Linked DNA regions of Homo sapiens. The protein of the gene in region 4 purifies or fractionates together with the protein of the main gene of each other region. This does not show direct contact. Each region holds a gene or a part of one and is shown on either strand. Other genes may lie near its edges. The genes, in order: TRAP1, UBE3B, ERO1A, CBS, CARS1, PARP6 and LRSAM1.

Region 1 (4,006 bases), on a different chromosome or scaffold from region 4:
TCACTCAAACGTAACACAACTCACATATCAATCTGAAACTCAGTATCCCTACATATGGAAAGACCTCAATCTGAACACCCCAGTGCTCCCCCCAGATCAGTCATGTGCGTAGGGAGGTGGGGCAGCTCCCGGGGTCTGTAAACGCGACTGACACACAGGCAGCGCAGGCCGACGGCGGTGCTCTCGCTGCAGAGGGCTGCTGAGAATGGAATCAGCACGGTCCCTCACAGATGCAGCGGGCGACACTGGGCCACGGGGGCACTGCTCACGGACTCTGAGCAGCGTACCTCGGATGAAGCGCAGCCACTTGGGCAGGATGTCCGTGGCCTTGGTCTGGATGAGGACTTTGCGGCTGTACAGTGCAACGCTGGAGCCCAGCTCCCGGCTCACATCAAACATGGACGGTTTCTGGGGGTGAGGAGAACACGCCATCATGCAGCACTGACCCTCCCCAGGCAGGCCCTGGCTGGGAGGTGGGGGCGGACACGATGAATCCAGAGCCCACTCCCGCCTCGCCCTCCCCCAGCGTCTGCTCTGAGTTGAAGCCCAGTGCAGGGGCCCCACGATGCCCCACACTGTGGCTCTGCAGGGGCTGAAGGCCTTCTCTGGCAGCTGCCGCCCTCCCCAGCCCACCCCCTAAGGAGGACACAAGAGAGTGAACCTTGCACGTACCCCTGAACACACTGAACACAGCCAAACCTTGCTACAGGTCAGGGATCAGCAAAGAGCCCTCCGACCAGATCCAGCTCACTGCCTACCTCTGTGTAGCCTAAGAGTGGTTTTTACACTTTCAAACAGTTGAGGAAAGATTTCAAAAAGGATGATCTCATGAGACGTGAAGATGAAACTCAAATTTCAGTGTCTACGCAGCTCATGGGACCCGGCCCTGTGTGCTCAGAGGGCAGCAGGGCAGTGCTGCTTCCTCACCCGGCAGGGTTAGTGGCTACGAAAGACACCGGGCCCGAAACGCTGGGACCAGCTCCTGTCTGGCCCTCGTGGAACGTGCCTGCCAACACCTGCTCCACACTGGTACTTCCCGAACCGGGACCCACACCTCATCACGGGATCTGGTTAAAATGCGGCGGGTATCTAGTTCAAATGTTGGGAGACCTGGTTAAAATGTGGGGCGACCTGGTTAAAATGGGGGGGATCCGGTTAAAATGCGGGGAGATCTTATTAAAATGTGGGCTCCCACGCAGGAGCCCTGGGTGGGGCCTGAGACTCTAACAAGCCCCTGGAGGCCACACCTGGCTGGCTCTTTCCAAGATGGATGCCAGCTGTGCAGGACATTAGGAGAGTTTCCAGGCAGCCAAGGACAGAAGAGCCTGGGGGCAGGACGGGCTGGCTCTCAGCCCCGAATAGGTCTCCTTACGGCAGGATTTGCGGGAACTTCAATGTGGTAAAGGAAACCAGGGGAGGTGGAGGGTGTGGAGGAAGCACACAGAGAGGCCAACGGAGAGGCAAGACCACAGGCCCTTCCCAGAGCGCCTGGCAGGACAGCATCCACTGATCCACAGCAGATGATGTAGGCTCTGAGGGCCCTCCCCAGGCACACCCCAGTCCACAAGCCTCCACCCCAGCCTGCACTGAGATGCCCATCAATCCTTCCCTCGCCATGTGTGACCCCTGAGACAGAGGAAACCTCTGTGGTTACCCACCCAGAGGCATCTGTTCTTTTTTTCTTTTTTTTCAGAGATGGGGTCTCACTATGTTGGCCAGCCTGGTCTGCAACTCCTGGGCTCAGGTGATCCACCCTCCTCAGCCTCCCAAAGTGCTGGGATAACAGGCGTGAGCCACCACACCCAGCACTACCTATGTTTTTCATGCCCTCACACTGCCATGTTAATCATGTGACATCTGCAGAGCTGATGCCACAGGGGACAACAGAGTCACCCTGAGGGCCGTGGGACTGCCACAGTGCCTCACCATGTCGGGCACGTAGAAGATGCTGCGGATGTTGAGCGGTGCGTCCGTCTTATAGTGCAGGGTGTAGCGGGGCTTGTCGTGAGCCTGCGCGACGTAGCGGTAGAACTCCTCATGTTGCCACTCACGGACATCCTTGGGGTCCATCATCCAGATGGCCTGGAAACGGAGATCGGCGGGGAGGGCGTCGTGTTCACCACGCACGTCTTCTCCACCACCGTGCAGGCCTGAGCCAGTGCAGCGCCTGGCCCTGGACAGGCTCCTGGGACAGACGGGCGGTGGTCTCAGGCGTAGACCCCTCTCCAGCCCCACCGCTGGGCTATGCCGGGTAGTGCAGGGGAGACACACAAGGCTCTGGGGCAGGAGCTCCTCAGGACAACATGTCAGGAGGACCAGCCGGGACCTGAGGGGGCCTGTGGGAGAGGATGACGCTGCCCAGCAGGGGCGAGCTGACGAATACAGTGTGGGCCGTGAGAGCGATGACGACCCACGCTGCACCGCAGCTGAGCCGCGAGGGGGAAGTCAGTCACTGAGGACAGCATGCCGTGTGACTCCATCCAGGAGAAACGTCTGGAACAGGCAGCACAATGGACAGAAAGGAGACCGTGGCTGCTGGGACTGGGGGAGGGGCAGTGGGGAAAGGGCTGCTTTTTGGGGTGATGGGATGTTCTGGAATTGATGCGGGGTGGCTGCACAGCTCTGTGGCTGCACTGAACACCATGGCTGCACACTGATGTGGTGAGCCAGCTGGGATGGGCGTTACGCCTCAGTGAACCCTGACCCCTGACCCCGGCTGCCCGGTGCACAGGGGCAGGGCTGTGGTAGAGCTGGGCCCCTGTCTCATCCCCACACCCAGGTCTCATCTCCACAGAGCAGCTCGCCCTGTGACTCTGGGCCGCATCCCCTGGGCTCATCTCTTCTCCGCTGCCCTGAAACGTACAGATTTGTCTCCATGTTTGACCAGTCCCTAGAGGAACTCAGGGCTCACCTGCAAGGTGTTCATCCGCCTTCCATTCAAGTACAAGGGGAAGCTGACGAAGTTGCTGTACTTCGTTACCACATCTGGAAGGGACAAAAGAAAAACCACACTGCATCTACAATGCTTGTGGAAACGCAAGCTTTGCAGCAGCTCCAGGATGAGCGCCAGCCTGCTGGGAAGGGTCCTCCATGCTGTGTACACTTCACAGGTACAGAAACAGGGCACAGTGGGGACACCTGTCCTCCCCCCAGTCTCACGGGGGCAGCAGCGGAGCCCACGTGAGAACCAGAGCTGTGGAGGCCCCGGCTGCTGCGAGACTGCAATGTCAGCTTGTGGCTGGAACATGGCTTTCTGGGCTGACTCCTGGGGGTACTCAGGGCCTCCCTGAGTGTCCAGCAGGACACAAAGAGGGAAGGCCACGCCCACATCCTGGGACAGGACTGCGCCAAACCCCCAGGTGCACTAAAGGCCAAGGGCCACGCAGAGGAAGGAGGAGGAGGTCCGCCTCAGCCAGGCCAGCTTCCTCCCAGTCCCAGCAGGAGCTCGATGCTACGCAGCCCTGGCGGGCAGCCCCCCTCCCAGTCCCGCAGCGGCTCGGCCCTTCACGGCTCTGCCTGTGCACCCTACGTGCAGGTAGAACCAGGGAAAATGCCTGCTGACCTGGTGGCCTCCAGGCCACACATGGATCCCAGAGTGAGCCTGGGCCCGGGCTCCCGCTCACCTCGCACCCGGGCCTCGCTGGAAAACTCCTTGCAGTCGGATTTCAGGTGGATGATGATTTTTGTCCCGGTTCTAACTCCCGAAGCTTCGGCGATTTCAAACACTCCAGAACTAAGGCAGGCAAAGAAAGGAAAAGCCAGGTGGATGTGACACTGGGACATACCCTGCATGGGACTCCAGCGGTTCCCGAGGGTTTCATAGGCAGAGCCCAAACAACACACAACACACCTCAAATGCCCCATTTCTGACCCCAGCGCACCACTCAGGCCATCACATGCCCATCAGGAACGATGAGCCTGTCGCAGGCGGCAGAGTTCTCCTGGTTCCCTCGGGCGGGGGGCGGGGGGGCGGGGGTCCTCCACCGACCCTGGGCTTCGAAGAAGC
Region 2 (4,006 bases), on a different chromosome or scaffold from region 4:
GGGCAGGGGCTCAGATGGGCCACCTGATTCCATCATGGCCAGGGACTGAGGCCGGTGCACATAGACTGTTTCCAGACAGAGAGAACAATGGATTATTCGAGAGTGAAAGGAGTTTGGCCCTGAGACCTCCCTCTCAGCTTGGCCCAGCTGCTGGCTCTTTCTGTTTGGAAAGCATCTGGCTTCTCCAGGTTCCTGGGGTATGCGAGGAGTGCTGCCCAGGTGGCTCGCTTCCTCCGTGCTTGGGCCAGAAGCTCAGCAGAGCCTGAGACCCAGGCAGGGTCCCTGCAGCTCTGGAGCCCACTGCGAAGGCCACACAGACTGGCTGGGCTTGTGCTGCAGCTTTCCTTCCTCCTGGGAAACAGGACTCTCCCAAGGAACAGGCGGTGACTTCCCACTGAAGGTGGTCCCACCTTGGCTTTCAATGGACGGGGTTTCAATGGACAGGAGCTGTGTGGGCCACATCACCCTGACCCCATCAGGCCACAGAGTGGAAACCCAGACTCACTTCCTCTTAGTAAGGTGAGGATGACTGCTCCGATCCACCTGGTGTGAGCAGCTGGCTGGGCACCGTAGAAGGCCCTCCTCACTTACCATTAACGGCAACCCAGGAATGTGGCTTTTCTTATCTCCACTTTACTGATGCGAGAACACGGCTTAAAAACTAAAGAAACTTGAAGGCACATGGTCACACGGCTGACTAGGAACAGCTGGTCCTGTCCTGTTGCCATGGCTGGGAAGCACTCACTCAAACAACACAAGATTTTAAAACTATCAAACTCCACAAAATGCTGCCCTCCTACAACGGGGACCCAGCCTCCGTGTGGCCATCTGGCTCTGCACACCACTCCTCATGCCTCAGGAAAGAAGAGGGCTGGCCTTAGGACTTGGGCCGGCCTGGGTTCAAATTCCACCTCTACCACTTAACTAGCAACGAAACTCTGGACAGGTGACTCCTCAAAGCTTCAGGTCTCCCATCCTTAAATAGCCAGGACAGTGGCAGCCCCGTCACAGGGCTGTCGATGGGATGAGATGAGATGCCACAGGCAAAGTACCTAGCACTGGTGTACAACAAACCTTGGTTCCTGCCCCTGTCCTCGCTTGTATCCTAGTGACAGTTTACATGGCCAAGCCTGATCACATATGTGTATGTGAAGAAGCCCATGGTACCGTTAACATTTTATTTTACATTTCTCTGTTTCTTAACGTTCCTACCTCATACACAGCCTTCCCCAGCATCTTCCCCACAAACTCGAAGAGCTGCAGGTAATTCTCATGGATGTAGGATGTGGGTGAGGGGTACAGCCTCTCATCCCCACTGGTTGTCTGCAAGGCAAAAAGACGGGGAGAGGCAGAGGTCAAGTGCCTTGCAAGGAGCAAGCCCAGCTCTTCACTTCTTGAATCTGGCTGCTGTCAGCCCTGCTGTTGCTCCCCTTAAATACCTTGAACAGATTGAGTGCTGGGTCAAAAACTCTCTTGATGATCTCTTCCAAGAACTCCTTAAAAACACCGTCTTGATCAATCCCTGCTTCGTCCACCCCGAGGTCATTGACAAACTTCACACGGATGACCCCCTTCATGGCGTGCTGGGAGAGCTGCCTAAGCTGCTCGTAGCCGTCCTGCCAAGAGCAGAATTACAGCCCATTAGGAAGCCCAAAGCCTTATGCACACAATTCGGGGTTCCCTCTCCTCTGTGCGAAGCTCTCCCAGCATCATTACCAAATGTGCAAATTATGAAACGTGGATGCATGACAGGAGCCGTTCTCACCTGCTTTTGAATGAGTGCTGATTAAAAGCAAAGATTCATTTGGGGATGTGACAGTATCACTCCTTGGCAAGGGGAGACTGACCTCAAGGGGACAGAGCAGTGAGATGGGGAAGTTAGACAAAATGAGTCATGACAAGCTCCTGGCCATCAGACAAAGGATGAAAGAAACCGGGACAAGATACATTTCTCTCTCTCTCAATGCTAAGAGTATCTTTAGCTCATGGTAAAAAAAAGAAAAAAGAAAAAAAAAAAAAATCAAACCTACAGAACACTGTAAAATGAAAAGAATTACCCATCACCCCTCATCTCCCGCTGCCTTCCCAATCATGAAGTGCCTGCAAGTCATGCTGAGGAATTTAGGGGACATCCTGAAGGTAATGGGAGCTGCAGAAGGTTTTAGGCAAAGAGTAACAGGGCTGACTTTCTGTCAGATCTTTCTATTGGCAGCAGAGCAGGTGGATGGCAGGGATCAACGCAGGGAGCAGAGACCGAGATGTGGGGGTGGTGCTGGGCCTGGACTTCTGGCTGGTGGTCAGCTCTGTTAGGACACAGCCATTCAGCACATCTACTCCATCCAGACCTCAACATGCACAGCCCCAGAACCACAACTTTGGAGTTCTCCTACTAAATCATCTGTTTAGTTTGTCTCTTGATTCTAATCTGTTGAGGCCTTCCTGGCTTCTGGTTCCATCATCTAATGCATTCCTAGTACTTGGGGTGCTGAGGTTTTTATTTCAGAGCAGTGACTATAAAAACAGTGCTGAACAGCACAGGGCCCAGGGAAGAGTCTGTTGGCCCGACTTGAGAGGCCCAATCACCAGGTGAAACTGATGTCTTCAGACACTGTGATGGAACAAGTGACCAATCAACCCTGCTGTCCTATGAAGGCCATGCCACATTTCTCCCTTTCAGCTACAACTGTAACACTGTCACATGCTTCGCAGGTTAGACAGGCTGTCTCCACAGCATCCACTCGGCTGCCGTCTGGTCCCCTCATCACAAAGCAAACGAGCAGTATGCCAGTGTGGCGAGACCTGTTTTGGGGAACCCTTGCTGCCTTCCTGCCATGTTCACCCAGTGATCCCCAAAGGACTATCCTATGGTGCCCCGATTCAGGGGTTAGGCTTCAAAGTTAGTGGGCAAGGGAAAATTACCTCTCAAGACCCCTAAGTCACATGTGGGAACAGGAGCACAGTTTTGTGGAGGCAAACCTGAGAAGGACTTTTTATGTACATAAAGTTTGAGAATCATTAAGTTAGATGACAAAAGGGAGAAACAGGAAGTCAACAGGCAGCTGTAACAGCATTTAAACCATTCTGCCTAAATTTAAGATAATTATCTTGGCACTGAGATGAGAACGGATGGAGAATTCCATCAAGTTCCTGTCTGCCTGCAGGAGTTCCTCCAACCTGCTTTAAAATTATGCCTCCCCAGCCTTCACACGCATTAGTAGATGCGTTTGTGGTTATGTGGATGAAATGGGATGGTACATGTGAAAGCAAGTGGCACATGGCCTAGCTCAAGGAGCGTTTACTGGATTCAAATCTCAGTCTTGCTTGATCAGCTCCACACCAGCCTCTTTGTTTAAACGTTTAGAGGGGACTGCCTCTTGTGATACATTTCCTGCCTTCTGGGAACTGGCGTGGATATGCGAGGATTATATCCATGCCTCTTGGGAGGTGAATGTGAGTCAGCGTTCCTCTTCTTCACTGCATCTCAACATGCACACACAGGGAATACTGAGCTAGAAAAGGGATGCCTGGCTTCCAGGCCCAGCTCTATCACTGATATCCAAGTGACCTTGACTGAAGTTCTCTGGCCTCAGTTCTGCCTTTGACAGAGACAGGGGAAAGGACTGGGTAAGAGTATGTTTGAGGATCCTTCCGGTTCTGAATACTAGAGTTCCAGCCCAAACTCACCCTCTGGGAAGAAGAGCCTTCCTACAGGACTTTAATATCTGGAAGCCTAATAGAGAAGCATAGCCCTCAATACTAACCATAAAAAAGGAAACAATGCCCAGGAGAGCATGAGTCTGAGATCAGCTTACTGACGCCCCCTTGTGTCCAAATCCAGCAAAGGCCCCTGGGCTCTCATATTCTAATAACCAAGCCACCAGATTACGACAACTGGGATAACAATGAACAACCCTCTCCCCTTCTCCAGTGGAAAGTAAAGAGGAAAAGGGACTTTGCCTAAAGCCTAAGACAGACATCTCTTTTGCCATCCCTGAGGGATATGCTT
Region 3 (4,006 bases), on a different chromosome or scaffold from region 4:
CAAGAAAATTATAGAGTAAGTGTGTTTGGGTGAGTATGAGTTTATACCTGTTTTCAGAAGAATAGAGCAATATTGGAACAAAACAAATATCTTAATAAGGTGACAAATTTACTAGAAAACTGAAAACCTCAAAAATGCTGAAAGCAAATCTATACTCTGCTTTTTATTAAATTCATTACTGTAAAATCTTCTGACTTATGATTCAGAATCTCCCCATGAACATTTTCTGTTTTTCTTTGCCTGGTTCTCATGCTAGACTTATAATTTTCTTGTCTCTTATAATTTTTTTCTTTTATAGTTTATGAGGTATTATGTGAGCTGGTCATGACTAATAAGAATGATTTTTATAAAATATAGTAGTGCACACAAAACAATTTTTAGATGTATTTCCAAAATTGTGTATTACATTTCATTTAATTAGGACATTCCATTTGTTCTTTTAATTAAAGAATTCTACATAAGCCTGTATTTTTTTTTACTTATTTTATTCTCATTATAATTGACATAAGTAAATTTATATGTTTATTGAGCCAATTTGTTCAGGTAAGAACTAGGGATGCTTCAGAAGTCATGAGGATGTTTTTTATATATAAATGTAGCAAACAAACACACAGTACTTGCTGTGTAACGGATGCTCCATGATAAGCCATAAATATTCCTGCTACAGTTAGTTTGTAAGTTCAAGTCAGAGAAGGAAAATATCAATAGTGAAGAAATAAGATTGATTCTTCATGTGGAGATAACATTTTTCCATGCTGCAAAGCTAAATCTTGCTGAATTTTAAGAGAAATTCTGTTTATTTCCTAGTTATCTTTAGTTTTGTTTGTCCTATTATGTGTCTTCTAACTGTGTATTCATCACAGCCCTTCTCCTTCTTTTTCTATGTGATGGCTACAGTTTTCTCACTGTTGTCTTCATGCCATGTCATTTTACATGGTACTTTGTAGGTTTTGATGAGAAAGTTGGTATTTATTTAATGCATTCAAAAATTGGTTTTAACTAGAGAGTTTGCTTATCAATATAACTTTCAAATCAGTTAAGATAAAAGGCAAACCTGTCCACAGGTGAGAGGATTAAGTAACTTAGCATTGTTTTTCTCTGTTTGTAAAAGGAAAATCTTATTAAATTCTTACACAGGCCAGGCGTGGTGGCTCACAACTGTAATCCCAGCACTTTGGGAGGCCGAGGCAGGTGGATCACGAGGTCAGGAGTTTGAGACCAGCCTTACCAACATGGTGAAACCCCACCTCTACTAAAAATACAAAAATCAGCCGGGCGTGGTGGCACATGCCTGTAATCCCAGTTACTCAGGAGGCTGAGGCAGGAGAATTGCTTGAATCCTGGAGGCAGATGTTGTAGTGAGCCAAGATTGCACCACTGCACTCCAGCCTGGGCGACAGAGCAAGACTCTGTCTCAAAAAAAAAAAAATTCTTACACAAAGTGTGACATCTATCTAATTTGCTAGAAAATATATCATAGAAATTAAAGTATTAGGAGAGTTAATGGTAAGTGAATAATTTTAAATTTAATGTTCTATGATACACTTACAGCACATGTTTCCATGTAGAATCTTTTATTTTTAAGTGTGAATGTTAAAGGCTGCAAAATAATAAAATGATCTCTGTGGATTTGAAATCTGGAATAATATTTCTTTTCCATATTGATATTACAACTCAGAGGAATTTCTCACTCTTATTTTATGTGATTTTTTTTTTTAGTGGGTGAAGGTGTCTACAGCTTATATTCTTAGTCACCTAACTGTAGTCAACTTCTTGGTCATTTTCTCTGGAAAAATTCTGAAGATCATGGCAACTTTTAGATTAAACCATTTTCTGGGTTTTTTTAATGCAAACTTGTTTATTGTGTTCACAAAGTGGCCAGTCATAAGACCATAAGCAACGCCTGCCCTTTCAGTGGCTTTCATACCATTACCATCTGTAATCAATAAATGTATATTTATTTTGTAAAACATAATGTTTGGAAGTATATATACATTGTTAAATGCTTAATTCTAGGTAATTACGCCACATAGTTAACATTTCTGTGGCAAGAGCAAGTGACATTGTCAGCATTTTTCAAAACTACAAATACATTATTTTGATCTATAGTCACTACGCTGTACAAAAATATCTCTTGAACTTCTATTAACTATAATTATGTATTTTTTGATCAACATCTTTTCAAACCCTCCTGTCTCCTAAATACCTTGGTGTCTGGTGGCCACCACTTTACTCTCTACTTCAATAAGATTAAGTTTTTTAGAATCCCTTTGTAAGTGAAATCATGAAATAATAATCTTTGTGTCTGGCTCATTTTGACAAATATAATGTCCTCCAAGTTCATTCATGTGATGGAAAATAATAAAATTTCCTTTTTTAAAGATGAAAAAAAATAATAGTCAAACTTCTGAATATAAACATATTCATAAAACCTAAACACACAATTTGAAAATGATGATCTAAAATTACTAATGAGTTTAGGCCAGGTGCAGTGGCTGAAGCCTGTAATCCCAGCACTTTGGGAGGCCAAGGCGGGTGGATCACCTGAGGTCAGGAATTCGAGACCAGCCTGGCCAACATGGTGAAACCCCGTCTCTACTAAAAATACAAAAAATTAGCTGGGTGTGGTGGCATGCACCTGTGGTCCCAGCTACTCAGGAGGCTGAGGCAGGAGAATCACTTGAACCCAGGAGGCAGAGGTCACAGTGAGCCAAGATCACACCACTGCACTCCAGCCTGGGTGACAGAACAAGACTCTGTCTCAAAAAAAAAAAAAAAAAAACAGTAAAATTACTAATGAGTTTAAACCGCCATTTAAAATCAAAGTTACGGCTAGGCACAGTAGCTCACGGCTATAATCCCAGTACTCTGGGAGGCCAAGATGGGCAAATCACTTGAGCTCAGGAGTTCAAGACCAGCCTGGGCAACATGGCCAAATCTTGTCTCTACAAAAAATATTGTGAAAAATTAGCTGGACATGGTGGCATGCTCCTGTAGTCATGAGGTAGAAGGTAGGACTTGGCTCAGGAGGTGGGACTCAGGACACTGGACCAAATTGAAAACTAGCTAAAACAGGGAGGGGGCTGAAGCAGCTTTCCATGAGGCACACCCACCAGGGTGCCATGTCAGTTTCTCATTCCCATGGCAACATGCAGAAGTTACCACCCCTTTCCATAGCAATGACCCAGAAGTTACTACCCTTTTCCTAGAAATTTCTGCATAATCTGCCTCATAATTTGCATATAATAAAAAGTGGACTATAAATATGGCTGCAGAACTGCCTCCAAGCTGCTACTCTGGGCACACTGCCTATGGGACAGCTCTCCTTCATGAGGAGAGGTTCAAACTTTTTCCTGGGCAAAGCCAAGTGCCCTCCCAGGCTAAGCCCCAGTTTTGGCCATCGCACACTAGAGTGGGCAATAGAGTGAGACCCTGTCTCAATCAATCAAGCAATCAATCAATGAATAAAATGGAAGTTTCTATATTTTGTTTCTCAGAGTGTGATACTTTAATTCCAGAAGAAATATGGTACTGATGAAAATCAACCACAGTCTCATTTTCAACAGTATTAAGGCATCAACAGCAGCAGGAAAGGCTTTTACCCATTTAAACTCCAGGCCTGATACGAGCACACAAATAAAAAGGTTCTGATACAACAATATCTATCAAATAGCAAACTGTGCTGTTAGGAACTATTTAAATTCCCACAAGAAAACAAGAATATTTCCAAAGTGATATGGACAATTTTGAGCAGCTTCTTAAAAGAAGGTGAAGAGAGCTAAGAGTATGTTAAACTGTTCAATTGTATCTACAGTTCCCACCTTTCTGATTACTACCATTTAAGAGTGAATTTTTACTGCCTAATATTCAATCAGGTCAATCTTTTCCCATTCAGGTAAATGCCAGGAAAATTTTAAGAATATCTAAAATTAAGAGTGGTAGACTGAATAAAAGTAAATGTCACATACCTTGTAAAAGATATCTTGCACTCAAATGCACATTAATG
Region 4 (4,446 bases):
ATATTACTCAGCCCTAAGAGAAATGAATTCTGGCACACGCTACAACACGGACGAACCTTCAGGACATTATGCCAAGCGAAATGAGCCAGACACAAAAGGACAAATACTGTGTGATTCCACTTCCACGATGAGGCACCTGGGACTCTCGAACGCCCCTCTATGTCTGGCAAATTCATAGAGATAGAAAGTAGAATAGAAGCGGCCAGCGGCTGAGGTGAGTGGGGAAGGGAGGGTGATTGTTTAATGGGTGCAGAGGTTGTGCTGGGGATGATGAAAACGTTCTGGGTGGAGATAGTCACGGTGGTTGCCTCACACTTAGAAATGGTTACAGTGATCAGTGTTACGTGTATTTTACCCAGGATTAAAAACACACACACGCACCTGAAATAGATGAGACAGAAAAAAAAAAGAAGAAAGCAAAAAGAAAGCCAGGCGAGGTCCCATCTGCTGCCCCTCCTCTGGGGGGACAAGGAACCCACGACCACCTCCCACCTTGCCTTCTTCAGAGGGCCCAGGACTGGGCTCAGCCCCGCTTCACCCTCCTTTGATTCCCCACATTCAACAGGAAGACTAAGTCCACAGCCGTCACTCACCGGACAGATGGTGCTGACAGTTCAGCACCGCTCAAACTCTGTAAGGAGACGTGACAACAGAATCTGTCATGGGATCCTGGAATAGAAAAGGGCAGTGAGGAGAAAACTCTGCAAATCTGACTCAAGCGCGGACTTTGGTTAATGTCAACAATGGTTATGTGATCGTGGAATTGGCTCATTAATTGTAACAAATAGGCCGGGCGCGGTGGCTCACGCCTGTAATCCCAGCACTTTGGGAGGCCGAGGCGGGCGGATCATGAGGTCAAGAGATCGAGACCATCCTGGCCAACATGGTGAAACCCCGTTTCTACTAAAACTACAAAAATTAGCCAAGCATGGTGGCGCACACCTGTAGTCCCAGCTACTCGGGAAGCTGAGGCAGGAGAATCGCTTGAACCCGGGAGGGGGAGGTCAGTGAGCCGAGATCGCGCCACTGCACTCCAGCCTGGCAACAGAGCGAGACTCCGTCTCAAAAAATAAAAATAAAAATAAAAATAAAAGAAAATAAATAAAGTAACAAATATACGACATCAGTTTAAGATCTTAATAACAGGGGAAACTGGGGGAACTCTATCTATTTTTTCAATTTTTCTAAATCTAAAACTGCTCTTTTTTAAATTTTCGAGACGGAGTCTCCCTCTTGTTGCCCAGGCTGGAGCAGTGGTGCGATCTCGGCTCACTGCAACCTCCACCTCCCGGGTTCAAGCAGTTCTCCTGTCTCAGCCTCCTGAGTAGGATTACAGACGCCCGCCACCACATCCGGCTAATTTTTGTATTTTTAGTAGAGACGAAGTTTCACCATGTTGGCCAGGCTGGTCTCGAACTCCTGACCTCAGGTGATTCGCCCGCCTAGCCTCTCAAAGTGCTGGGATTATAGGAGTGAGCCACCCCGCCCGGCCTAAAACTGCTTTTTTTTTAAAAAGCCTATTAAAAAAGAAAAAGTTGCGGAAGCCGGCTGCCTTTGGAAGCCCTTGGAGTATGCTGTTCAGGTGGTCTCTGCGCACAGGCCCTACCCAGGCCTCAGCTTGGCCTCCTGGACTTCCCAGCCTCCCCTCCACCTTTGCAATTCACCAGACTGGGGGCCAAAGCGGCTTCAAACGACCCTGGAGGGTGGTGCTTTCAAGGTCTTGGGACCACGGACTTGTCTGAAAATCCGAAGGCGTTGGATCTTCTCTTCCCCAGAAAAATGCACCCGCTTTCAGAGGTTCGTGTCCCACGCTTTTCTTTCTATCCCAACCTTGTAAGAAGCCGCCGCCGTGAGCGGAGCAGCACCTTCCTCCGCGGGTCGCGGGAGTCACCTACGGGAAGGGACTCTCCGTCTGGCACAGGCCCTGTCTGGCCTGGGGCGCGCATGCTCCGCCGCCGAATCTTCCAGAAAGCCGTGGACCCGAGGCCCCGGCAGACGCAGGCGGCCCAGCGCCTTGCTTTTGGCCCCTCGCCTCGCCCTGGAGCCCTCTCTCGCAAGGTAAGGGACTGCCGGGAACGCAGATCGCAAGCCGTCGGGGCTCTGTAGAACTCAGAGGCGCTCGGCGGAAAGCTCGCCAGGCGACCCAGACCCGAACCCGCGGGCTCCCCAAGACAACAGCGCCGGGCGGCCGGATGCACGTGCGTCCCGGGAAGGCGGGTTCAGCTGGCATCGCCTGGCCGGTTCCGTTCGCTCCTTAAACCACAAGACCCCCTTGGGGTCACGACGTTCCCGGGGCACCCCTGCACTCGCGCGCCAGCACTCCCGGAGGGGCCTGGGGAAGGCCACGCGCACGGAGAGCGGGAAACTCCTCTAGGTTTCCAGGTGGGAGATCCAGACCCTACTGAGACCCGGAAACCGCCGGCCACTCCGCCTCCGGAAGCGACACTTTGGGACAAAGCTGGGGACAAGTAAGCCCAGAAGATCCTCGGGAAGCCGAGAATTTCGCGCTCCGCTCTCCCACCCACGCTCCGCCTCCCGCTTGCATCCTACAGCTCAGCTGCGGTCTCGCCTGGGGCTCAGGGAAGTGAGGTCCCAGGAAAACCTCCATCCCCCGAACGCAACCTGGGCAGAGCCCCGCGTCCCTCCCCCAGCGGGCACCCACCTCGCGTGCCGCCCGCGCAACGACAGCGTTTACCGCCACCCCACACGGTCCGCCAAAAAGGGCGATTTGCAAACAGCCATTTCCCATCCACAATGCAGCGAACTCAATGCTGGGCACCGAAACGTGCATCTCCCCCGGATTCCCACCCCGCGTCCCTGCTCCACGCTCCAGGACTCGCCGCCAGTGGGGTCCACTCCGCCGGCGCGGGGGCTGGGGTGGGAGCCCGGGGCCACGTGCACGGCCAGCCCCCATCTTCTGGGCGGTCAAGACCGCAGGCGTGGGCGCCGGTGGGGCGGGGGTCTTGGGAGACCCTGTCTCGCCGCCTTTCGGTGCAGATGATGCAACTCTGGGCGGAGGCGCGGAGAGGGAAACCGGGACCCAGTTGAGATCCTCTGTCCAGAGAGGGGAGCGAGTCTCGGTGGGGCCGGATCTCACCTGGACGGATACATGGAAAAGAGGGGCGAGCGGCTGCCCCGACTGCGGCGAGGCGGAGACGGCGACCCCGGGGTGGCGGCCTCGCGGGGACCCACGGCGAGGGGAGCAGGCGGGCGGTGATTGGCGGAGAGGCGGGGGCGGAGGCCGGCGCCGGCCAATGTCTCGTGGCAGAGCACCCGCCCCCCCAGCCCCTCCTCCACCCCACCCAGCCCGGGCCCCTCCCCCCCACCCCTTCCCCACCCCGCCGCAGCCTGGGACCCTCCGGCCTGCCCGACCCCCGCCCTCCCCGGGACCCCGGCATGCCCCCACCCCAGTCCGCCCGCCCCATTCCCACGCCCTGTTGATTCAACCGCAGACCCGGGTCGCCGCCCCCTCCCCCGCCTTCCTCTTCGCCTGAGCCCGCCCGCCCCGGGTTCCAGCCACCCCCACCCGCGGACCCCGGTGGTGTCTTCTACCTGGTGTTCCGATGCTGTTTTACTTGGTTAACTTCTTGCCCTTCGGGAATTTAAGGAACCTTTACTGATGAGCTTGAAACGTGCGTCCTGGTGGGTGGGGGGCCCTGCGCGTCCTCGAGGACCGACCCCGAGGGCGTGTGTCGCGGGCCCGGGAGGGGGCGCCGCGCCGGGGCGGGACTCGATGGCCGCGCTCTGTGGCCGCCGGACGCCGTGCGCAGCGCCCCGCGTGACCGCGCCCAGAGCCGGGTCCGAACCCCGAGCCGAGGCGCAGAACAGTCGCCTTGCGCGGCTCCGGTGCGGCCCACGGCCAGGGGCTGCCGGGCGCTCTCGGGGACGGGGCCGACTCCGCGCAGGGTGGTAGCAGGGGCGCCCCGCGGGGCTCCTTCGCCAGGTCCCGGAGGCCGCGGGCGGGGCCGTTTCCCAAACATCGTGCTCTGGACTTTCAGAGGCTGAACCTGATCCCCCCGCCCTATGGCTAAATGGGGGATCCCAGGCCCCCGAGTCTCCCCCCGGACCTGCAGCGAAAGACACGGACGGTGCCCATCAGCTCTGGGCAGAGGAACGTGCTGCGCCTCCGCAGCGTCCCCGGCTCAGGTCAGAGCGATGCTCCGCAGCCTCCTCCGGCCCGCGCAGCTCCGCCGCGGTCTCTGCCACGTGGGGCTCACAGTAGGGGAGGGAGTGAGACGTGAATTAGAATTAAATGTCCACTGGCAGGAACTGACACGAAGAACAATAAAGCCGGCGATGTGGGGAGGGGACAGGGATGGAGTTACATCATGAAGGCTCTGGAAGGTGGCATTGGAGGCCGGGATCGCGCCACTGTCCTCCAGCCTGTGCGACTGAGCGAGACTGTCTCCAGAAAAAAAAAAAAAAAAAAAAAAAAAAAAAAAAATC
Region 5 (4,006 bases), on a different chromosome or scaffold from region 4:
CATTTACTGAATACAGGTCAGTATATGTGACGAAGTCATGTGTGTTCATGATGCCAAGTGGCCGCAGCAAAATGCAAATAAGCAGCGGCCTATGTAGTTGGGGTCCAAGACCAAGCTCATGGGACAGCACAATGGCAAAGTGCCCCAAACCAACAGTCACAACCAAAGCAGACCCTCCACACCGGCAGGGCAGCTGACCACACTTAGCACTCTCAGAGCCAGAATTGCCATTTAGCTCGAGGCGCTGTCCGGAAGGGTCTGGTGTGGGTGGGCAGACAGAGGAGGGGCAGTTCAGAGGGACACAGAGGGGTAGGGAGTGGGGAGGGAGCAGGTGCAGAAGGCAGGACCCTGCATGCTACTCACACTGAGGCTGGTTCCAGGCCCTCCGACCGGGAATCCCAGGGAGCTGTCCTCTTCTACGGCCCCAAAGATCTAGGAAAAGAAACAGATGGGACCTGAAGCTGCGGCAAGATGAAGGCGGCATGTGGCGAGCAGCTGTGAGCTGTGTTCCTCGTTCACGGGAGGGGGTGCCCCAAGACCAGGAAAGAGATGGAAGCAGCAGCTCCAGGAGCCCCAGAAACCCGAGCCTGAGGGTGCCCTCATTGCTCCAGGATGGCCCTGACTCACAGCTACCCTCTCCAGCTCTGTTTCAGCCAGAAGCCACTGGAGCCCAACAACAAGGAAAGAGGAGGAGAGGGGAGGGGAGTTGAGTCCAGGCCCTGCTGGCCTTTCAAGGTGCACTGCGGGGAAGGGCTCTGCACAGGATGTGTTCAGAGAGGAGGCCTTGTCCCTGGTTTTGCTTCTCTTTTTTTTTTTTTTTTGAGATGGAATCTCACTCTGTCGCCCAGGCTGGAGTGCAATGGCGCAATCTTGGCTCACTGCAAGCTCTGCCTCCTGGGTTCATGCCATTCTCCTGCCTCAGCCTCCCGAGTAGCTGGAACTACAGGAACCCGCCACCATGCCTGGCTAGTTTTTTGTATTTTTTTTAGTAGAGACGGGGTTTCACCGTGTTAGTCAGGATGGTCTCCATCTCCTGACCTTGTGATCCGCCCGCCTTGGCCTCCCAAAGTGCTGGGATTACAGGCGTGAGCCACAGCGCCTGGCGTGGTTTTGCTTTTCAAACTCCAAGATGGGAGTAGAGGGAAACGGAGTCAAAGGAAAGAAATAGCTCTGAGTAAGGACAACTATATGGATGTTACTTATTTTTGTCTGGTTTTGAGACAGGGTCTCCCCTCTATTGCCCAGAGTGGAGTGCAGTAGTGCAATCACACCTCACTATTCAACCTCCTGGGCTCAAGCGAGCCCCTCACCTCAGCCTCCCAAGCAGCTGGAAAACAGGTGTGTGCCACCACACCTGGCTAATTTTTAATATATTTTATAGACCCGGGATCTCACTATGTTGTCCAGGCTGGTTTTGAACTCCTGGGCTCAGGTGATACACTCACCTGGCCTCCCACAGTGTTGGATTATAGATGTGAGCCACTGTGCTCCGCTTATGGGTGTTATTTCTAACGCGTGAAAAGCACACCAGGAACCAAAGAGGACAGAAGCATATCTCCACGTCTCAGAGGTGCTGGGCACCAGGCACAGCACTGGGGGGCACCAGAGGCCTCTGTTCTCCCAGTCCTGGGGCCTGGCTCCTGTGTCCACACAGGCTGAGGGATACGCCTGCCTGGGGCCTGGCTTACCTTCAGCATATGGGTGAGGTACAGGGCGATGTTCTCCAGCAGAGCCTGGTTGGGCCTCTTCCTCACGGCTTTCCGGGCTGCCATATAGAGGTTGCACTGACTGACCAAGGCCCGCATCTCTTCCATGACGGTGCGGGTGTCAACATTGTCACAGAGGGCTTTGTGAATTGCTGTCTTCTTGTCATAAAAGCTGAGCAACAAAGAGGAAGGAATGTGAAGTCAGACCTGAAAACACACCATAGAAATTCCCCATGTGGCCAGGCGCAGTGGCTCACGCCTATAATCCCAGCACTTTGGGAGGCTGAGGTGGGCGGATCACCTGAGGTCGGGAGTTCGAGACCAGCCTGACAAACATGGAGAGACCCCCACCTCTACTAAAAATCTGAAATTAGCCAGGTATGGTGGCGCATGCCTGTAACCCCAGCTACTCGGGAGGCTGAGGCAGGAGAATCGCTCGAACCCGGGAGGTGGAGGTTGTGGTGAGCCGAGATCACGCCACTGCACTCCAGCCTGGGCAACAAGGGCGAAACTCCGTCTCAAAAAGAAAAAACAAAAAAGAAATTCTCCATGCACTTCAACACCCAGAGCAGCTCCCATTAGCAGAGCCGCCTATCCTGAATTAATTCTGCACAACGTACGACAGTGTCCCCAGCCCTTCCTCGACAGTCCAGGACACATGGTGGCCAAGATGCGAGGCTAGGCATAGAACATGGGCATGCTCAAAAACCCCAAAGAAATGGCACCACCTTACTTCTTATTCAGTTCTGCTTCTTCTTCTCCCCACTTCTCAAACTGACCAGTGATGTCAACAGGAGCGCGAAGGATATCTTTCACATTTAAGAAAAACTCCTGAAGTTAGAAAAATCAGTTTAACAGCATTTAGGCAACTTTTCCATCCTGAAATATCTGTTACAACTTTCTACTGCTGTGATTTTATTTTTGGTAAAAATCTGAAAGACCAGAATTACACAAGTGGTCAGAAAGAAAGGAAAAGATATTTCTTTGACAGAAACATGCTCTTGCTTTAGGTTTACAGATGCTCATTTGGTGGAAAGTACAAGTCAGAAGGACGTGCACTGCAGTGACTAGGAGGACGAGGCCTCTGTCCACTCTGCTGAGCCGTCAGCCATTTCAGGAGTGGCCCCGAGCCTGTTATACCCACTAGCATGGAGGTGCTTCCACCCATGTGCTGGTCTCCATTAGAGACATCGGGAGGCTGGTGCACCTATCACCACTGCACAAGGTGCCCACTGTGCAGGGGAGGCTGCTCCACCAACCTCCAGGAAGGGGCTGGGGACTCACATTCAAGAACTTCTCATATTGAAGCGCTGACTCCATGGTGTTGCTGGAGTAGTCCAGGGTGTCCTTCCACGAGTGCATGAGGAAGGCCAGCCGCAACTGCCGTGCTGTGGGGGGACACAAGACAGCCAACGCCCTTATTCTCCCGAGTGCTACAGCCATTACACATGTATGAGAAGGTGGTTGGGGGGTCTGTGGGAGAAGCCAGTGTATACCTGAGTGCTTTTTCAAGGCATCTTTAATGGTGATGAAGTTTTTTAGTGACTTTGACATTTTGCAGCCTGCAATGGTCAGGTGGCCTGTGTGCAGGAAGTACCTGACCCAGCAGTCGTTTTCAAAGTAGGCCTGCGTGGAAAGAGACAAAGGATGTCAACAGTCATGTGTTACTGGGGCCGCCTCCTGCCACCTGCACTGTCTGCTGCCTTGTTGGTGCTGTCCACAGGCAGGAGCTGCGTTTTCCAGGTGGTGCAGGCAGGGCTTGGAAGGACAGCCCAGGTTAATAAGCCAGCAGGTAACACAACTGGTTCAAATCCAGGCTAGTCTGTTGCCAAAGGCCAGGCTGTCAATGCGGAAACCACACTAAATGATCAGGGTTCAGATTCCACCCACAAGCCCCGATGAAGGTGTCAAGTTCTAGTGAGAGAGGCCCTTCTGAGGCCTGGGCTGACTTTTCCTCCACTGCAGTATGAACACTGTGCTCTTGCACCTGACAAGGGGACTCTGTTTTCACCTACCTCCGACTGTGCCAGCTCATTGTCATGGTGGGGGAACCGGAGGTCGAACCCACCTCCGTGAATGTCCATCGAAGCCCCTAGGAGGGTGCCTGCCATGGCCGAGCACTCGATATGCCAGCCCGGACGACCCTGGAGAAAGCCGAACACACAGTGACTGACCAGCCTACCCGCTTGTCCAGGCCTTTATCACTTATCACTCCAAGTTGATGGCCCTTACATCCTCTGAACTTTATTGGAACAAGCGTTAAATCCCGCACATGAAAAGACTAAGGGAAGGCTGGGCGA
Region 6 (4,006 bases), on a different chromosome or scaffold from region 4:
TGAGCATTTTCTATCATTAAGTTCATAATTTATCCCACTATCATACCATAAAAAGAAAAACCTCTAGCCTTTTAACAACTCAGAAAGAAGTGACTTGCTCCCCTGCCACCCCTGAAGTAGAGTCCCACCTGATGGATACAGAGTTCTCACTGTAGATCTCCTTCACGGCTTCAATGTCTGCATCAAGCTGTGGGTGTCGATACAGGTCAGCTGCACAGCTCCCCTGAGATAGCAGCAAAAATGGTGGTGGAGAGAGGTGGAAAAAGACGAGGGAAAGAGAGAGATAATAAAAAGAATATGAAAAGACACCAGGAACAGGAGAAATCAGACAGCAGTATAGGGGAAGTAAAAGCCACTTATGTGAAGGGGTTCTCAGTGGTGACCCTAGCAAGGGATTTCATTAACAGAGGTCTCCATCTCATCATGACTTTAAAAAGGTTCAGCAGACCAAATGTAGGCTTTTGCTTGGAGTTCACTTCCTTAAATCTCCAGCTTTTCTCTCAGACCTTGACCAGGATACCTTCTATGACAACTCAGAACAGGCTGAAGAGTTACAGGTTTCCTAAGATTGGTTCTAAGTGAAGAGCATTCTGAGAGTCTGGGTACTTCTGCTCAGGACTGTGCCCTGGGTAGTGATGGCATTAAGCAAACGCTGGCAGAGTAATCTTTTAAGATGTGACCCTAATGAATGAAACTACCCCCACTGGCTAGTGTTATAAAAGTCAGAAAATAATTATGTCTAATTAAGATATGGGTAGTCTCCACATACAGAGGATGTAGTTTACTCTGGAACAGGTATGACTCCAAAGAAAGAGCAAGGGCACGGGATCAGCTCTGACAAGACCATGCTCAGACCACATCAACATTATAACCTCATCTCATCTGTGCTCCAGAACCTCTTTCACTCCTGATGTATCCAAAAAGCAGCACATATCTAGACCATCCAACACGGGGGTCTTGGGAGATGTAACCTCACCTGAACGCCATAGAGAAATTCCTCTGATTCATTATCTCCCTCCGAGTCGTCATCATTCCAGAACTGGCCTTTGATGTCCTAGTGGTGAGAAATAAGGATATCATGCTTTGTTAGGTCCCTATTATCCCATGGAAAGGCGTGGGATGATATGGTGAGGAACAGATTCCCACAAAGATTGGGAAATATAGAATAACTGAAGCCCTGATCCCTTTACACCTTTCATGTCACCCTTTGTGAGAGTCTCAGTCTCTTCCTGATATGATCATATCCATAAACTAGCTCTTAGTGGGACAGAGGAAAACATCTAGGGAATTTTGGCCTTCTGAAGTCTCAGTATGATGACTGAGAGGCTCTGGTAGCCAGTAGGAAAGAAATGCAAATGACTTCAATGTCAAGGTTGACTCCTAAGCATATCTGGGTTCCAGTACAAGCTGGCCTCTTCCAGGATCATTACCTAAGACAGTTCCCAAGCACACCTAAACTCTCTTGTCTCATTATTTTCTTTCTATCCTTTAAAGTACTTAACTCTCCTCTCCCTCCCCAAGAAAACCCACTACACAAACACACCAAGTAATACTGTTTCTGTGCCCCTTCCCTTTCCTTTAACTTCAAATAGCCACTCTATCTTCCAAAAGGGTAGAAGGGAAAATACCAAGAAAGGGTGAGATCTGCACTTTGTCTCCTCTACCCTTTGAACAATCAGTTGGAGAGGTGGGCAGTCAGTTCTCACCATTGGGTCAGTGGGTCACACACACTCTCAGGTCAGTGCTAGGCAGCACCCCTCCATACCACTAGCCGAACCAAGGCCAACGAGATGGGCATTTAGGAGACCACAAAGGGAGACAAGGTAGGGCACGATGTCAGGGACAACTGGTGATCTGTTGGGGATGGCAGGCTCTGCTGTTGCGGTGGTAACAAGTCACTGTCCTGTGGAAAGTAGATAATAATGGGTTTCATCACCACTTAATAGCTGGGTGGTGTATATATACAGGCACACGTATTTATCAATACACTTTTTTTTTTTGAGACAGAGTTTCGCTCTTGTCGCCCAGGCTGGAGTGCAATGGCGCGATCTTGGCTCACTGCAACCTCCGCCTCCTGGGTTCAAGTAATTCTCATGCCTCAGCCTCCCAAGTAGCTGGAATTACAGGTGCCTGCTGCCACGCCCAGCTAATTTTAATATTTTCAGTAGAGATGGGGTTTCACCACATTGGCCAGGCTGGTCTCGAACTCCCGACTTCAGGTGACCTACCGGCCTCGGCCTCCCAAATTGCTGGGAATACAGGCGTGAGCCATTGCACCTGGCTATTAATACACTTTTATTATACATACAGATACTTGCATATAAAAAGACATGCTTGCGTGCATATACATGCACACTTGCACATGCAGTTCTTTATAGATAATGAAACACAAAAGCACTATATGCAAGATACTGCTGTTCTACTTAAACTGGAGAGCTGGGATTAGAGCAAGATCCTGCTCTAGCTCATAATGTTACAACTCCTAAAGCCAAAAGTGATGGTGGCAGGACAAGATGCTTATGTTTACTCTGTCAGTTAATTCTTCAGAGTACCAACTCACACCAGAGTTAAGATTCAGAATCGGATTATTTCTGGACTCTTTATTCTTAGTTATTTCTCCATATTAGCCAGTATCTCTCTTTAAACATCAGTATTACTAGCTATTATACGGCAACAATAGCTAACTTAAAAAGTCCTCAACGGCCAGATCACCTGAGGTCAGGAGTTCAAGACCAGCCTGACCAATGGGGTGAAACCCCGTCTCTACCAAAAATACAAACTTAGCTGGGTGTGGTGGCGTGCGCTTACGATCCCAGCTACTCAGGAGGCTGAGGCAGGAGAATCGCTTGAATCCGGGAGGCGGAGATTGCAGTGAGCCTAGATCACGCCACTGCACTCCAGCCTGGACAGTAAGAGCAAAAACTCCATCTCAAAATAAAAAGTCCTCAACAACACTGAACATCTTTTGGCAGTTATGGTCTCAGTTGTCATTGCCAAAATAATGCCCTAAAGTCATCTTGGAACCTGCTTCCCAAAGAAAAATGCAATAATTATCCCAAAAATTGCTTAGAAAAACTTTTACTTAACCCAGAGCCCTTTCATACACAATTCCCTGCTCGCTTCTAATCCCACAGACTCCTAATCCTATACCAGCAACTTTTAGCTCCATTAAAACCTCCACATATAGCAGAAAAACAAAACAAAACAAAAAACTCATCTGTGAAATTATGAAGGCTTTAATGGCTGAAGATGGCAAATCTACCCTAAAAGCAGGCTAAAAAAGCTTTCTGTTGCTCTCTAGACCAGCAAGTCACTGGCTTTGCACACATCGCAGCTGAAGCTACTCCAACCTCAAACAGAGGTGTTCTTGGTCTCTAACACAGTTCTTCTTCTTCTTCTTTTTTTGTTTTCTGACAGAGTTTCGCTGTGTCGCCCAGGCTGGAGTGCAATGGTGCGATCTCGGCTCACTGCAACCTCTGCCTCCCGGGTTCAAGCAATTCTCCTGTCTCAGCCTCCCACGTAGCTGGGATTATAGGCGCCCGCCACCATGCCCAGCTAATTTTTGTATTTTTAGTAGAGACGGGGTTTCACCAGGTTGGCCAGGCTGGTCTCGAACTCCTGACCTCAGGTGATCCACCCGCCTCGGCCTCCCAAAGTGTTGGGATTACAGATGTGAGCCACTGTGCCTGGCAGGTCTCTAATACAGTTCTACTGAATGTCAGGTTTCCAGATTAGTGATTCTCTGACTGGGGTTGGTGGACCTACAGCATCAGTATCATCTAGGAACTTGTTAGAAATGCAAATTCTCAGACTCCTCCTAAGACCTACTGAATTAGAAACTCCAGAAATGGCCAGGCACTGAGGCTCATGCCTGTAATCCTAGCACTTTGTGAGGCCCAGGTGGGCAGGACACCTGAGGTCAGGAGTTCGAGACCAGCATGGCCAACATGGTGAAACTCCTTCTCCACTAAAATAAAAACATTAGCAAGGCATGGTGGTGCACGCC
Region 7 (3,500 bases), on a different chromosome or scaffold from region 4:
GGGGCCCAGCTGCCCTCCTCCCCATACGGCCATACGGCCCTGGCTCTCAGGAGCCACAGGAACCCTCCAGACAGCCTGTCTCTGGTTACCATGAAGACAGCTGACCCAGCAGGGGTCAGTCCATTTACAGCGACCCCCGGAGACTGGCTGCCCTCCTGCTCAATGGCTCCCGGGCGGGGCAGCCTGTGGATCCCGGCCAGGATGGCCCAGAGCTGATGGAGGGTCACACGGACACGGCTTCTTGGTCCCTACCTTTAACATTGAGAGTCTGGAGCTGGGTCAGGTTCCCAATGGAACGTGGGAGCTGCATCAGTTGATTCCTTTCCACGTTTAAGACCTAAGAAAGAGGAAGAGGCAGCCAGGCGCAGTGGCTTATGCCTGTAATCCCAGCACTTTGGGAGGCCGAGGCAGGTGGATCACAAGGTCAAGAGTTCAAGACCAGCCTGGCCAACATAGTGAAATCCCATCTCTACTAAAAATACAAAAATTAGCTGGGCATGGTGGCACACACCTGTAGTCCCAGCTACTCGGGAGGCTGAGGCAGGAGAATTGCTTGAACCCAGGAGGCAGAGGTTGCGGTGAGCTGAGATTGCACCATTGCACTCCGGCCTGGGCAACAGAGTGAGACTCCGTCTCAAAAAAAAAAAAAAAAAAAAAAAAAAGAAAGAAACAGGAAGAGGTGACACGAGAACCCACACACAGACCACAGTGATGACCCCCGCACCCCTCGCCCTGCCGGGCCAGGGCACCCAGGCACTACACACACAAGCTCTTATCTCCCCCTACCGGCCCTTGAGGAAGACAGAAATTCTTGTTTCCGCTGGAGACAGGAAAAAAACTGAAGCTCAGGGTGGCAAAGTCACGTGCTCAGGAGAGCACAGCCAGGCCTTGAACCCCTTCTGGCTGAGGTTCCAGCACTTACACCGACCACAAAATGCTCAGTAACTGCCCCACCATCAGGGAAGGAGGGAGAAGGGGACTACAGACTTGGGGATCTGGGGAGGCAGCACAGGAGGCTCTAGTTCCCCTGGCCTTAAGGAAAAGGCTGCCCTAAGGCCGTGTGATCCACCCAAGGCCTCAGGCCGGCAGTGGTGCTGGGACTGAACCAGGGCTTGTTGGATTCCGAAGCTGTGCTCCCTCCAGAAGGTGGTACCTCGAGGTGAGCAAGGCTAGCAGGATGACACACTAACCATTAAAAATAGATGCAATGGGGGCCAGGCACGGTGGCTAACACCTGTAATCCCAGCACTTTGGGAGGCTGAGGTGGGTGGATCATGAGATCAGGAGATTGAGACCATCCTGGTGAACATGGTGAAACCCCGTCTCTACTAAAATATAAAAAATTAGCCAGGCATAGTGGTGGGCGCCTGTAATTCCAGCTACTTAGGAGGCTGAGGCAGGGGAATCGCTTGAACCCGGGAGGTGGAGATTGCAGTGAGCCGAGATCACACCACTGCACTCCAGCCTGGTGATAGAGCGAGACTCTATCTCAAAAATACAAACAAACAAAAAATGATGCAATGGAAAGCTAAGTAGCCATTAAAAATAATAAGATGAATATTTGATGAACCAAAGGATGCTATGAGTTATTGTCAGGTATCCAAAAGTTACAAATTAGTGAATGCAGCAATTCTATAAAAATACACCTACTGGCCAGGTGCAGTGGCTCATGCCTGTAATTCCAGCACTTTGGGAGGCCAAGACGGGTGGATCACCTGAGGCCAGGAGTTTGAGGTCAGCCTGGCCAACATGGTGAAAACAAGTCTCTACTGAAAATACAAAAATTGTCCAGGTGTGGTGGCGTGTGCCTGTAATCCCAGATACTCAGGAGGCTGAGGCATGAGAATCTCTTGAACCCGGGAGGCAGATGTTGCAGTGAGTTGAGATGGTGCCACTGCACTCCAGCCTGGGTGACAAGAGTGAGAAAAAAAAAATACACATACAAAAAGTCCTACACCAAGGTATTTATTGTGGCTCAAAGTGGTACAATTGGTCAGGCGTGGTGGCTCACACCTGTAATCCCAGCACTTTGGGAGGCCAAAGTGAGTGGATAACTTGAGGTCAGGAGTTTGAGACCAGTCAGGCCAACAAGGCGAAACACCATCTCTACTAAAAATACAAAAACTAGCTGGGAGTGGTGGCACACACCTGTAATCCCAGCTACTAGGGAGGCTGAGGCAGGAGAATCGCTTGAACTCGGGAGGCAGAGGTTGCCTCTGCAACTCTGATGGCGCCACTGCACCCCAGCCTGGGCAACGCAGTGAGGCACTGCCTCAAAAAAAAAAAAAAAAACCCCAAAGGGCCAAGGGGAGGGTGGAGCTGGCACTGATTGCAGCCTGCTTCCACTGGCTGGAGCCCGGCCAGAACATTCCAGGCTTGAGTGACTGCCTGGTCTCACTAAGGCCATCCGAGGTGGGTTTCTGTTTCTGCAGCCTTACCTGGAGGGCAGTCAGCTGCCCCAGATCGTCAGGAAGGGCTGTCAGCTGATTATCGTGGAGATCTAGAACCTGCAGAAGAAAGACCCCTGTGAGTCTCCAAGTGAGAAAGTCCCTCAGACTCCGGGCTCCAGAGCGCTGAGGAGGGGCTGGGGCCACCTCACACCCCCAGTGCAGAAACAGAGTGCCTGCCACTCCTTTCCCACTCAGTGTTGATCATTCCCGCCTCATTTTCCTTCTCAAACCATTATACCATTTTCTTATTTTATGTATATTTATTTTTACTGTTAACTGAAAAACTATGCTATAAAACAGTATGCCTAGATACTAATATGTTAAAAAGAAACACTCCATTGTATAAATATGTAAGACTTTCAAATATGCGATAAAATATTGACAGTGGTACTCCACAGTGTAAAATTATAGATGTTTCCCCCTTTGCTTAACTGTACTTGCTAATTTTTAATTTAATTTTATTTTATTTTGTTTTATTTTGAGACAGAGTCTCACTCTGTCACCCAGGCTGGAGTGCAGTGGCACGACCTCAGCTCACTGCAACCTCCACCTCCTGGGTTCAAGTGATTCTCGTGCCTCAGCCTCCCAAGTAGCTGGGATTACAAGCACAAGCCAACATGCTCTGCTGGTGTTTTTTTTTGTTTTGTTTTGTTTTGTTTTGTTTTGTTTTTGAGACGAAGTCTCGCTCTGTCGCCCACGCCGGACTGCGGACTGCAGTGGCGCAATCTCGGCTCACTGCAAGCTCCGCTTCCCGGGTTCACGCCATTCTCCTGCCTCAGCCTCCCGAGTAGCTGGGACTACAGGCGCCCGCCACCGCGCCCGGCTAATTTTTTGTATTTTTAGTAGAGACGGGGTTTCACCATGTTGGCCAGGCTGGTCTTGAACTCCTGACCTCAAGTGACCCACCCGCCTTGGCCTCCCAAAGTGCTAGGATTATGGGTGTGAGCCACCACGACTGACTGCTAATTTTTTAAAAATGAAAATGCACAAAAAAGGCCTTGGAGAAATATTTATACATGTGCACACACAGGTACCCTCCATATCTATGGA

Evidence for each region.
Region 1: the proteins of CBS (region 4) and TRAP1 purify together in Homo sapiens (affinity purification with mass spectrometry, with the first as the bait; one large-scale study listed by BioGRID). This does not show direct contact.
Region 2: the proteins of CBS (region 4) and UBE3B fractionate together in Homo sapiens (co-fractionation; one large-scale study listed by BioGRID). This does not show direct contact.
Region 3: the proteins of CBS (region 4) and ERO1A fractionate together in Homo sapiens (co-fractionation; one large-scale study listed by BioGRID). This does not show direct contact.
Region 5: the proteins of CBS (region 4) and CARS1 fractionate together in Homo sapiens (co-fractionation; one large-scale study listed by BioGRID). This does not show direct contact.
Region 6: the proteins of CBS (region 4) and PARP6 fractionate together in Homo sapiens (co-fractionation; one large-scale study listed by BioGRID). This does not show direct contact.
Region 7: the proteins of CBS (region 4) and LRSAM1 fractionate together in Homo sapiens (co-fractionation; one large-scale study listed by BioGRID). This does not show direct contact.

The regions. Positions count from the first base shown.
Region 1 is NC_000016.10:3,672,413-3,676,418, forward strand, and holds part of TRAP1 (heat shock protein 75 kDa, mitochondrial isoform 1 precursor), read right to left. Parts: exon of another isoform or gene 3,734-4,006; coding exon 3,624-3,733; exon of another isoform or gene 2,986-3,623; coding exon 2,912-2,985; exon of another isoform or gene 2,083-2,911; coding exon 1,927-2,082; intron 409-1,926; coding exon 288-408; intron 1-287.
Region 2 is NC_000012.12:109,518,758-109,522,763, reverse strand, and holds part of UBE3B (ubiquitin-protein ligase E3B), read right to left. Parts: intron 1,617-4,006; coding exon 1,440-1,616; intron 1,324-1,439; coding exon 1,213-1,323; intron 1-1,212. UniProt on the Homo sapiens protein: E3 ubiquitin-protein ligase which accepts ubiquitin from an E2 ubiquitin-conjugating enzyme in the form of a thioester and then directly transfers the ubiquitin to targeted substrates.
Region 3 is NC_000014.9:52,653,949-52,657,954, forward strand, and holds part of ERO1A (ERO1-like protein alpha isoform 2 precursor), read right to left. Parts: coding exon 3,969-4,006; intron 1-3,968. UniProt on the Homo sapiens protein: Oxidoreductase involved in disulfide bond formation in the endoplasmic reticulum. Efficiently reoxidizes P4HB/PDI, the enzyme catalyzing protein disulfide formation, in order to allow P4HB to sustain additional rounds of disulfide formation.
Region 4 is NC_000021.9:43,072,673-43,077,118, forward strand, and holds the start of CBS (cystathionine beta-synthase), read right to left. Parts: upstream 3,164-4,446; 5' UTR 3,098-3,163; exon of another isoform or gene 1,831-3,097; intron 670-1,830; 5' UTR 594-669; intron 1-593. UniProt on the Homo sapiens protein: Hydro-lyase catalyzing the first step of the transsulfuration pathway, where the hydroxyl group of L-serine is displaced by L-homocysteine in a beta-replacement reaction to form L-cystathionine, the precursor of L-cysteine.
Region 5 is NC_000011.10:3,015,418-3,019,423, forward strand, and holds part of CARS1 (cysteine--tRNA ligase, cytoplasmic), read right to left. Parts: intron 3,851-4,006; coding exon 3,722-3,850; intron 3,333-3,721; coding exon 3,203-3,332; intron 3,124-3,202; coding exon of another isoform or gene 3,095-3,123; coding exon 2,991-3,094; intron 2,538-2,990; coding exon 2,440-2,537; exon of another isoform or gene 2,439-2,439; intron 1,879-2,438; coding exon 1,689-1,878; intron 433-1,688; coding exon 364-432; intron 1-363. UniProt on the Homo sapiens protein: Catalyzes the ATP-dependent ligation of cysteine to tRNA(Cys).
Region 6 is NC_000015.10:72,265,769-72,269,774, forward strand, and holds part of PARP6 (protein mono-ADP-ribosyltransferase PARP6), read right to left. Parts: intron 1,904-4,006; 5' UTR 1,710-1,903; coding exon 1,707-1,709; intron 1,055-1,706; coding exon 977-1,054; intron 224-976; coding exon 129-223; intron 1-128. UniProt on the Homo sapiens protein: Mono-ADP-ribosyltransferase that mediates mono-ADP-ribosylation of target proteins.
Region 7 is NC_000009.12:127,458,010-127,461,509, reverse strand, and holds part of LRSAM1 (E3 ubiquitin-protein ligase LRSAM1), read right to left. Parts: intron 2,508-3,500; coding exon 2,439-2,507; intron 338-2,438; coding exon 253-337; intron 1-252.